3 linked regions of the Homo sapiens genome follow. The protein of the gene in region 1 purifies or fractionates together with the protein of each later gene. This does not show direct contact. Each region holds a gene or a part of one and is shown in the gene's direction. Other genes may lie near its edges. The genes, in order: PCDH12, CELSR1 and DCBLD1.

The links.
Region 2: the proteins of PCDH12 (region 1) and CELSR1 purify together in Homo sapiens (affinity purification with mass spectrometry; 2 studies listed by BioGRID and IntAct, with this or other methods). This does not show direct contact.
Region 3: the proteins of PCDH12 (region 1) and DCBLD1 purify together in Homo sapiens (affinity purification with mass spectrometry; 2 studies listed by BioGRID and IntAct, with this or other methods). This does not show direct contact.

Annotation. Positions count from the first base shown.
Region 1 is NC_000005.10:141,945,568-141,948,283, reverse strand, and holds part of PCDH12 (protocadherin-12 precursor), read left to right. Parts: intron 1-2,478; coding exon 2,479-2,716. UniProt on the Homo sapiens protein: Cellular adhesion molecule that may play an important role in cell-cell interactions at interendothelial junctions. Acts as a regulator of cell migration, probably via increasing cell-cell adhesion.
Region 2 is NC_000022.11:46,527,621-46,531,275, reverse strand, and holds part of CELSR1 (cadherin EGF LAG seven-pass G-type receptor 1 isoform 1 precursor), read left to right. Parts: intron 1-3,655. UniProt on the Homo sapiens protein: Receptor that may have an important role in cell/cell signaling during nervous system formation.
Region 3 is NC_000006.12:117,545,127-117,548,781, forward strand, and holds part of DCBLD1 (discoidin, CUB and LCCL domain-containing protein 1 isoform 1 precursor), read left to right. Parts: intron 1-351; coding exon 352-471; intron 472-2,475; coding exon of another isoform or gene 2,476-2,513; exon of another isoform or gene 2,514-2,780; coding exon 2,781-3,313; 3' UTR 3,314-3,655.

The DNA of each region.
Region 1 (2,716 bases):
GGCCCTGTTCTAAGTACCTCATGAGAAAATCTTATGAGATAGGGGCTATTCATTATCCCCATTTCATAAAGGAAAAATGTGAGGGTCAGGGGTGTTTCATAATTTGCCCAAGGTTGTGCAGCTCGTGGATGGTTATTAACACAGGCAGTGTGGCTGTAAATTTTAGAGCTGTGTTGTTCAATGAGGTAGTCACTAGCGACAAGTGGCTATTTAAATTTAAGTGAATTAAAATTAAATAAAATAAAATATTCAGTTCTGCCATACCAGCCACATTTCAAGTGCTCACTGGCTATGTATGGCTGGGGGATATAGCTTTGGATTCTATCTCTATTGGTCAGCTCTGGCTGGAACCTGTGGGGTCAGTTCCCACACGGTCCTGCTTGCCCACAGCACAAAGGGTACTGAACACAGGGGCACTGTAAGGAGTTGGGGGTAAGGAAAGAGGAGGGGCAGAAAAGCCTTTGCTGCTCACAGGCTGGACTGCCATGGGGAGACTGGGATCTTGCTGCTTCAGATCTGCTTCAGATTGCTTCAGATTTGCTGCTTCGGATTCAGATTGCCCCACTTGAGAATGCGACCATGATAATGTTTTCCTGGTTGCATGAACTCACTGAACCTCACAACAACTCCACAAGATACGTACTACTGTCTCACCACTTCCTAAGAGGAAACGGGAGCTTAGAGAGGTTAAGCCATTTTCCCAAGGTCACACACACTGCCCCTAAGCTGCAAAGCTGGGAAATCAAACCCAGGTTGGCCCAGTGCCCACCTGCAGCTAGAACTGGTGGGTGATGCTGGGTGAATTCAGCATCACTTTTCAGCTGTTCTCATACGCCCCAGTGATTTTCTCATTCCAAGCTTCACTCCTTCTGAAGCTCTCTGACCCATGTAAAAGGAAAGGCCTGATTCTATAACACCAAGAGTTCCATCCAACCTTATAGCCTCAGAGTCTCAAGGAACTAAGGTTTGCATTTCCCAAATGTTGAAGGTTAATATTTATGTTCATTCAATCATTCAACAAACATTCACTAAGTCCCAGGCATGGGGCTAAACCCAAGGATCCAGTAGGGCAGGAGCCCAACAGTGTCTCACAAGCTGCACAGTCCAGAATGCAGGGCAGAGATTCATTTATCAGTACAATAAATGACTACACATACTTCGGAATAACTTGTTCAAATTACATAAGTAATATTTGGTTAATATAGAAAAACATAGATAAACAAAAAGAGAATGGATTGCTTCTGCCCAGAGGTAATTTCAGTTAACATTTTGACATATCTCCTTCCAGTCTTTCATTCTGTGCGCAGATTTTAAAGTAACTCACCTTAGGCAAACATTAGATAAATGTTAAGTAGATGTTGTGCTTTTTTTTTTTTTTTTAATTTTTTTAAGACACTGTTTCTTAACTCCAAGACTTATAATTTCTTTCCTCTGGCTTGGTCTCTACCATCAGGCCTGGGACTGGTTTCTTGAAACAGGATTTTCTGTTAAAGGGATGGGAAAAGAAGGGTGACTGTGGCATTGCAAATGTAGGGGCCAGTTTTTTGAATTCCCAGCCACCAGGCTGACTTGCCACCGCCACTACCCCAGTCCCTCTCCTGGGACAGCCCTTGGACAGGCAGCCCCTCCCCAGCCTGACTCTAGGCCAGGGTTCCAGCAGCTTGAGAGATGATGTTGAGGAGGATTTGAGGATCTGGGGCCAGGTGGTAACAGTGCAGACCTTAGGTAGCCTGGGAATTCCAGAGGCCCCAGCTGGGCACCTGGAGTATCCAGGGGGAGGAAGGGCCAGCTCTTCAGAGAGAGGGTAGGGTGGTGCCATCATAGGCTTCAAAGTCATCAGACCTGGCATCAAATTGAGGTTTGGTTGCCTAGCAGATGTGTGACTTAACTTCTTTCAGCTTCAGTTTCCTCATCCATCAAATGGGAATAATACTCTTGACCTCAAAGGTTTGTGAAGTTAAATGAAATAATTATGTAAATTGCTCATCACGTAAGTACCTAATATGTGGTCCCTATTATTATGGATGGGAACCAAAAAAGGCAGCGCTAAGTCAGGAACTCCAGCCTTGGCAAAGAAAAGGGATTTTCCCTCCATCCTCAGCTAGTGGAGCCCTGAGGGGAGAAGGCGCCCTGAGGGGTAAAAATCCTGGATGAAATATAGAAGACACTGAGACTGGAAACACACGCCCAGATTGGGAAATTCTTCAGAAATCGGCAAATTTCTACTTCTAGGCCTTCTCCTCCTCCTGCTGCTTCCCCACTTGGTTCGCCCGGGTGTGTCAGTCGACTGCTTTCCTACCCAGGGAGCTTCCCTGTCAGGGCCTCTTCCTTCCTGTCCCCGTCTGGCCACTCTGTCTGTCCCCTGCCATTTCCCTTCCCTCCTTTGTCCACTGCCCTTGCCCTGCTCATTGCCCCACCCTCACCCGCCTGGCCCTTCCCGGAGCCTGGCCCTCACTGTGTCCCCTCCTTCCCCCACAGGTCTGGCCCTGGACCGGCTGAGCGCCCCTGACCCGGCCTGGATGGCGAGACTCTCTTTGCCCCTCACCACCAACTACCGTGACAATGTGATCTCCCCGGATGCTGCAGCCACGGAGGAGCCAAGGACCTTCCAGACGTTCGGCAAGGCAGAGGCACCAGAGCTGAGCCCAACAGGCACGAGGCTGGCCAGCACCTTTGTCTCGGAGATGAGCTCACTGCTGGAGATGCTGCTGGAACA
Region 2 (3,655 bases), on another chromosome or scaffold:
CGAGATCCCACTGCTGCACTGTAGCCTGGGTGACAGAGTGAGACTGTCTCAAAATAAATAAATAAATAAATAAATAAATAAATAAATAAAAGGATGCGCAGAAATCTCAGACCATTCGACTAGGATTTAATGCTCCAAATAAGTAAATCACTATTGACTATAAGATCTATGGTTCCAGACAGCAAAGCACCGGATAGAAAACAGACCAAACAAAAAGATCAGCCCTTGAATTATCTGGAGGTTTTATTAAGGAACAATGCGGGGAAGCGGTGGTTTCAAACTCATCCACTGTTTTCAATGGAGTGTTGTTGCTTCCCCAGGATTTACAGCCATGCCCTAAAGCCTTTGATGCAATATGACCAGCCTGGAGGTGCTGTATGCAACAGGCCAGCCATCGACTACGTTTAGTGGGAGCCATTCCAGGAAGGGCTGCCAGCTTTCAGCAGAGGAGCCCAGGAGGGAGGAGCGCATCGGAGGGCAGGGCCTGGGAAGGCCCACGTGGTGGGGGCAGTTCATTTAGCCTGGCGTGGGGTTGAACACTGTGACTGTGACTAGATAGTTGTTGGTGGTTTTATGTAGCCCACCAAGGAGAAAACATTTTTTGAAAATTTTTTGAAGTCAGAAGATAGTGAAATTCAAATAGCTGCCAGTTTTGAATGACATCCAGCGATACAAGATGTTCATTTTTTGCGATAGTTTTTGAATGAGATTTTAAATTCTGTGATAGGAACTTTTTATTATGAGCTTGTATAAAGGCTGTGTTTGCGTTTTTCAGGGCAACGTGGCTGATGACCCAGTGGACAACTCAAGCCTTGAATGTGCTCTGCCTTCTTTCTGGACAGTGGTCTTTCAGAAACATTGACATTCTTTGTTTTATTTTTATTTTTGAAAAACAATTTATATATAATGAATTATATATAATATATAATATATGTTATAATGAATTATATATAAATTATATACACAAATTTATGTGTGTGTATATATATATGTGTGTGTGTGTGTATGAGACAGGGTCTTGCTCTCTTGCCCCAGCTGGAGTGCAGTGGCATGATCACGATTCATGTCAGCCTTGATCTCAGCTCATTGCACCACCACACCTGGCTGATTTTTTTTTTAATTATTTGTAATAGAGACAAGGTCTCACTATGTTATTCAGTCTGGTCTCCAACCTCTGAGCTCAAGTGATCCATCTGCCTTGGCCTCCCAAAGTGCTGAAATTATAGGCATGAGCCACTGTGCCTGGTTAGATGTATGTATTTATGAGGTACATGAGATATTCTGGCACAGGCATGCAATGTGTAATGATCACATCATGGAGAATGGGGTCTCCATCCCCTCAAGCATTTATCCTTTGTGTTATAAACAGTCCAATTATACTCTTTTAGTTATTTTTGAATGTACAATTAAATTATTATTGACTGTAGTCTCACTGTTGGGCTAAATACTAGGTCTTATTCTTTTTTTTTTTTTGAGATGGAGTCTCACTGTATCTCCCAGCCTAGAGTGCAGTGACATGATCTCGGCTCACTGCAACCTCTACCTCCTGGGTTCAAGTGATTATCCTACCTCAGCCTCCTGAGTACATTGGATTACAGGTGCACGCCACCACACCCAGCTAATTTTTGTATGTTTCTTAGAGACAAGGTTTCACCATGTTGGCCAGGCTGGTCTCGAACTCCTGACCTCAAGTGATCTGCCTGCCTTGGCCTCCCAAAGGGCTGGGATTACAGGCGTGAGCCACTGTGCCTGGCCTTATTCATTTTTTTAGCTATTTTTTTGTACCCATTGACCATCCACCTTCCTCCTGCTACCCCCTTCCCAGCTTCTGGTAACCATTCTTCTATTCTCTGTCCCCATGAGTTCAATTGCTTTGATTTTTAGATCTCACAAGCAAGTGTGAACGTGGGATATTTGTTTTTCTGTGCCTGGCTTATTTCACTTAACATAATGACCTCCAGTTCCATCCAGGTTGTTGCAAATGACAGGATCTCATTCTTTTTTTTTTTTGAAATGGAGTCTCACTCTGCTGCCCAGGCTGGAGTGCAGTGGCACCATCTCGGCTCACTGCAAGCTCCGCCTCCTGGGTTCACACCATTCTCCTGCCTCAGCCTCCTGAGTAGCTGGGACTACAGGTACCCGCCACCACACCCAGCTAATTTTTTTGTATTTTTAGTAGAGACGGGGTTTCACCGTGTTAGCCAAGATGGTGTCGATCTCCTGACCTCGTGATCCACCTGCCTTGGCCTCCCAAAGTGGTGGGATTATAGGCGTGAGCCACTGTGCCCGGCCCAGGATCTCATTCTTTTTTATTTTTATTTTATTTTATTTTATTTTATTTTATTTTGAGACAGAGTCTCGCTCTGTCGCCCAGGCTGGAGTGCAGTGGCGCGATCTCAGCTCACTGCAAGCTCCGCCTCCCGGGTTCACGCCGTTCTCCTGCCTCAGCCTCCCGAGTAGCTGGGACTACAGGCGCCCGCCACCACGCCCGGCTGATTTTTTTGTATTTTTAGTAGAGACAGGGTTTCACCGTGTTAACCAGGATGGCCTCGATCTCCTGACCTCGTGATCCGCCCGCCTCAGCCTCCCAAAGTGCTGGGATTACAGGCGTGAGCCACCGCGTCTGGCCTCATTCTTTTTTATAGTGGAATAGTACACCATGGTATATATGTACCACATTTCTTTTCTCCAGTCATCTGTGGCCGGGCCACGTCATTTTTAATTCACTTTGAGTGTGTGTCCGTGGGTGCAGGGCTGTAGGCCTCTTGTTGCAGAATGCGGAGCTTGGGAGAAAGGCGATGTCCCTGCCTCTCCTGCTGTGTGTGTTGCAGACCCATGGATGTAGGAAAGTGGCGTTTGTGGGTGAGAATGATTGGCGGATGAGTCATTCAGGCATGTCAGAAAATACTGAAACTCGGTGAAATAACAGGATTGAGTAACCTTCTCGCCGTTGACTTTGGTGGAGAGTGGATGGTATAAAGTCGTCTAGGCTTGATAAAGCTTCCCTAAGTGTTTGCCTAGTTAAATACAGGATATTGCAGTGGCTTTTAAACAGACGATTGCAAAGAAGGAAGTAGGGGCGGGCTACTGTTCAGGCATTGTCTGGATGCATGGCAGCGTGCTTTTCTGGAACTCACAGGGTAGGGAAGGATCGGACCTTTTTTTTTTTTTTTTTGAGACAGTCTTGCTCTGTCTCCCAGGCTGGAGTGCAATGGCATGATTTGGCTCACTGCAACCTCTGCCTCCCGGGTTCAAGTGATTCTCCTGCCTCAGCTGCCTCAGCTTCCCAAGTAGCTGGGATTATAGGTACCCGCCATCATGCCTGGCTAATTTTTGTATTTTTGTAGAGATGGGGTTTCACCATGCTGGCCAGGCTGGTCTCCAACTCCTGACCTCAGGCTATCCGCCCGCCTCAGCCTCCCAAAATGCTGGGATTACAGGCGTGAGCCACCGCTCCCAGCCTGGGTCGGACCATCTTAAATTGCTTCAGTGGCCAAGCAGGATTCTGCCAGTGTCAAACCTTCCCAGGAGAGTTCAGTGCTTTTGGCAATGAGTTAACCATTTCAGAGCTCTGATAAGTCTGGAGACAGTGGCTTGCTCATACCTTGAGAAACACTGCCTCAGAAATAAGGAGTGTTGGTTTGTTTATTGAGCA
Region 3 (3,655 bases), on another chromosome or scaffold:
CACCTCCCCAGGGTCTAAACACCAGCTGCAGTGTCTCCTCTGCCTCACAGATGCCATGCCAGTGCAGATTGTCGGAGACCATACCCAGATGATCTCACAAAGGGAGAATCTGGGACCTGATGAGGGCAAAATACCTTTTAAAGGCACAGCGGAAAGCATGGTTAGAGTAGTGTTTGCTGTTGTGGTTAATGACCTTGGCATGCTGTTCTTAGCACACACACCTGAGGAGGACATTGATCACTGTCAGCTGTCAGGAGGCAGCCTGACCTCTGACTCATCAAGGAACATGTTCTGGAGGACGCGCATTACATTTCTGACATATTCATTTGGTTTATGTTACCTTTATTCCAGACTGTTGGAAGCAGATTAAATATCCCTTTGCCAGACATCAGTCAGCTGAGTTTACCATCAGCTATGATAATGAGAAGGAGATGACACAAAAGTTAGATCTCATCACAAGTGATATGGCAGGTAAGTGTCATATTTCTAGGACTGTGCTATTAGATTGGAGGTGCTGCTTGTGGGGGAGGGAGACAGGAGAGAAATAAGGCAAAATCCTTTTCTATTTAGATAGGGTCCAGTAAATCTGAAATGTGTTTTTTCTGCATTCTGCACAGAATTACAAACTGACACTGAGATATTACTTAAAAGCCCTATTCAGCCAGTCTTTTCACCTGCAGGGGATATAGTGACATCCATAGTGATAGCCCTGATGTACTACTTGTATCTGGAAGCCCTGAATCTATTTTTGTTACCAAAGCTTTGATTAAGGCACTGGTACAGAGGGGCTGAAAGGAGGAATTAAATACAGTTCCTGCCCTGAGGAAGGTGAGATAGGAAATAAAGGAACTCTCTCAGTATGAGAAGGGCCTCAGTGTCCCTGACAAGCCACATCAAGAGTCGAGCTTCCCAAACCATCTATGGGGAAATGCTTTTTGTTTCTTTTTTTAAAATTTCTACTCCATCATGAATGAATACACTGTAAAATGCAATATAAAATACTAGTAATAAGGAAATTTTAAAGATACAAAATACAAAGCTCTAATTTTTTATTATTAGATTCAACAGACATAAAATTAAGAGTAATAAAGAGTAACTAAGAGTAGTTTCTTGACACTTAGTCTCAATTTCTGCACCTGTCTCTATGGCACTGCTAAAAACAGCTCTCAGATACATAGGACTCTGTGGGGCATGCTCTGAGTAGCACTGCGCTCTGGCTTCTCCCTCCTCACGTGCAGCCTGAGGACCTGCAGTATAGGCATCACCTGGGGGCTTGTTAGAAAGGGAGGCCATAGAACTAGAAGCTCCCAGGTGACGCCTGTGCACATCAGTGACTGGGAGTTGTCAGCCTAAGGGTTGGTTGAGTCACTTTGTGGACAAGGAGAGCATCCTCTGCAACCAAAATCCATCCTCTTGTTCCTTGGAAGTGACATGAAGGGAGAACCTAATTTCTGTTGTCTTATGCCTTTCATTCTCCTTCAGCTTCTAATTCAGTCTCTCCTCCCTCCTCCCTGAATGATCCTCAGGCTCCTTAAATGTGCAATGACCCGGGTTCTGTCTCACCCCCACTCACCACAGTCTCTCCCCTAAACAGTCCCACACCCTCCCCAACTTCCAGCAGTGCCCTTCCCTGCATGTTTGTCCATGCTGCTTCTCACACCCAGACTTCCCTCTCAGTCCCCAGTCCATAATTCTCAGCAGCCTGCTGGACACCTCCACCTGCAGATGTCACCCGTTCCTCAGCAACCACAATCGAATCCATTGTTCCTAACCCTCACCACAGATGCTCTGTGCATTCCTTGTCTAATGGCTTCTCGACTGCACATCCCAGCCTCAAAGAGTCCTTGCCTCCCGGCTTTCCTCACACCCCACCTCTCATTGGTAACAAATTCCTGATTCCTGTCCCAAAGGGTCACTTTTCCTCTTTCCTAGTTTGTGACTTCTATGTGCATTTCTCTTTGCTTTTTTACCTCTCACTTTTTGATCTTTTCCTCTTGGGTCAACCTCCACAGTTACCTCTGAAAGTGCCAGTCTTTCGTTTCCCATAGAATTAAACCAGACTTCCTAGCAAGACAATCAATGCTTTTCCATGCTCTAACGCGTGGCTAACAGCATATACTCAGGATGTGCGTTCGAATCCTACTCCATCGCCCCATTGTGTGACCTAGGAAAAGTTAGTCTCTCTCTGCCTTGGTTTCCCATTTGTAAAATGGAGTAACAGTTCCTACCTCGGGATTTTTTTGAAGATTATTAACATCTTGCTATTGGAATAGCGCCTGGCAAAGAGTAGGAGCTCTATAAATGGGAGCTCCTGGCATCATCCTCACTGTCACCACTAGGCCCTGACCTGTTGCTTTGGTCCTCATATCCTATTAAACAAACTACTCTGTGTCCCTCATACTCTGGCCATATCAACTCTATTTTCGAGGCTGTTTTTTTCTCCATTTCCACACTGTGTGACTTCCACCTCCATAGCTTCTCCAGAGCCAGTTTCAGAGCCACTTCCTCCCTGAAGTATGTCCCCATGCCCCAGGACGTCGTCGTCGCCCCCATCTCTGAGAAGACCCTGCGAAGCTTCCTGAGCAGGCGGTGCGGTTGTGTACTGCCTGCGGGTGGCTTCTGTGGCTTTCACATCAGGGTTTTCCGCAGTGCCTGGGACACCTGAGGGCACCCGGGGGGAAAGTCAGTCACCACGACCTGAAGCAGAGTATCCCCGTCTGCCACTGACAGGCCGGCCCGTGTGTGGTGCCCGCTAGCTGCCATCTGTCTTGTGGTTTCAGATTACCAGCAGCCCCTCATGATTGGCACCGGGACAGTCACGAGGAAGGGCTCCACCTTCCGGCCCATGGACACGGATGCCGAGGAGGCAGGGGTGAGCACCGATGCCGGCGGCCACTATGACTGCCCGCAGCGGGCCGGCCGCCACGAGTACGCGCTGCCCCTGGCGCCCCCGGAGCCCGAGTACGCCACGCCCATCGTGGAGCGGCACGTGCTGCGCGCCCACACGTTCTCTGCGCAGAGCGGCTACCGCGTCCCAGGGCCCCAGCCCGGCCACAAACACTCCCTCTCCTCGGGCGGCTTCTCCCCCGTAGCGGGTGTGGGCGCCCAGGACGGAGACTATCAAAGGCCACACAGCGCACAGCCTGCGGACAGGGGCTACGACCGGCCCAAAGCTGTCAGCGCCCTCGCCACCGAAAGCGGGCACCCTGACTCTCAGAAGCCCCCAACGCATCCCGGGACGAGTGACAGCTATTCTGCCCCCAGAGACTGCCTCACACCCCTCAACCAGACGGCCATGACTGCCCTTTTGTGAACACAATGTGAAAGAAGCCTGCTGTGGTACTGAGCGTCGGGCTGTCACAAGGCACTGGAAGAAGGGAGCCTGCTGGTCCAGAGTGTGCGTGTGTATCGGTGTGTGTGTACACTTGCATGTGTGTGTGTGATCCAGTAGGATCCTAGAGACAACCTGTCATACTGTTTACAAAATTGTGCAGCTGGTTTCGTGCTGACCCTTAGGGTGCGTCTGTTGGGTTTTGTTGGGCTAGAAAAATGAAAATTTTCAGATGGCGTTTTCATTCCTCTGACTGATATTGAGCTGCTTTGGTGTTAAAGGTGTAATGTGTACAGAGTTGTATTTAACAATAATAAAAGTAAC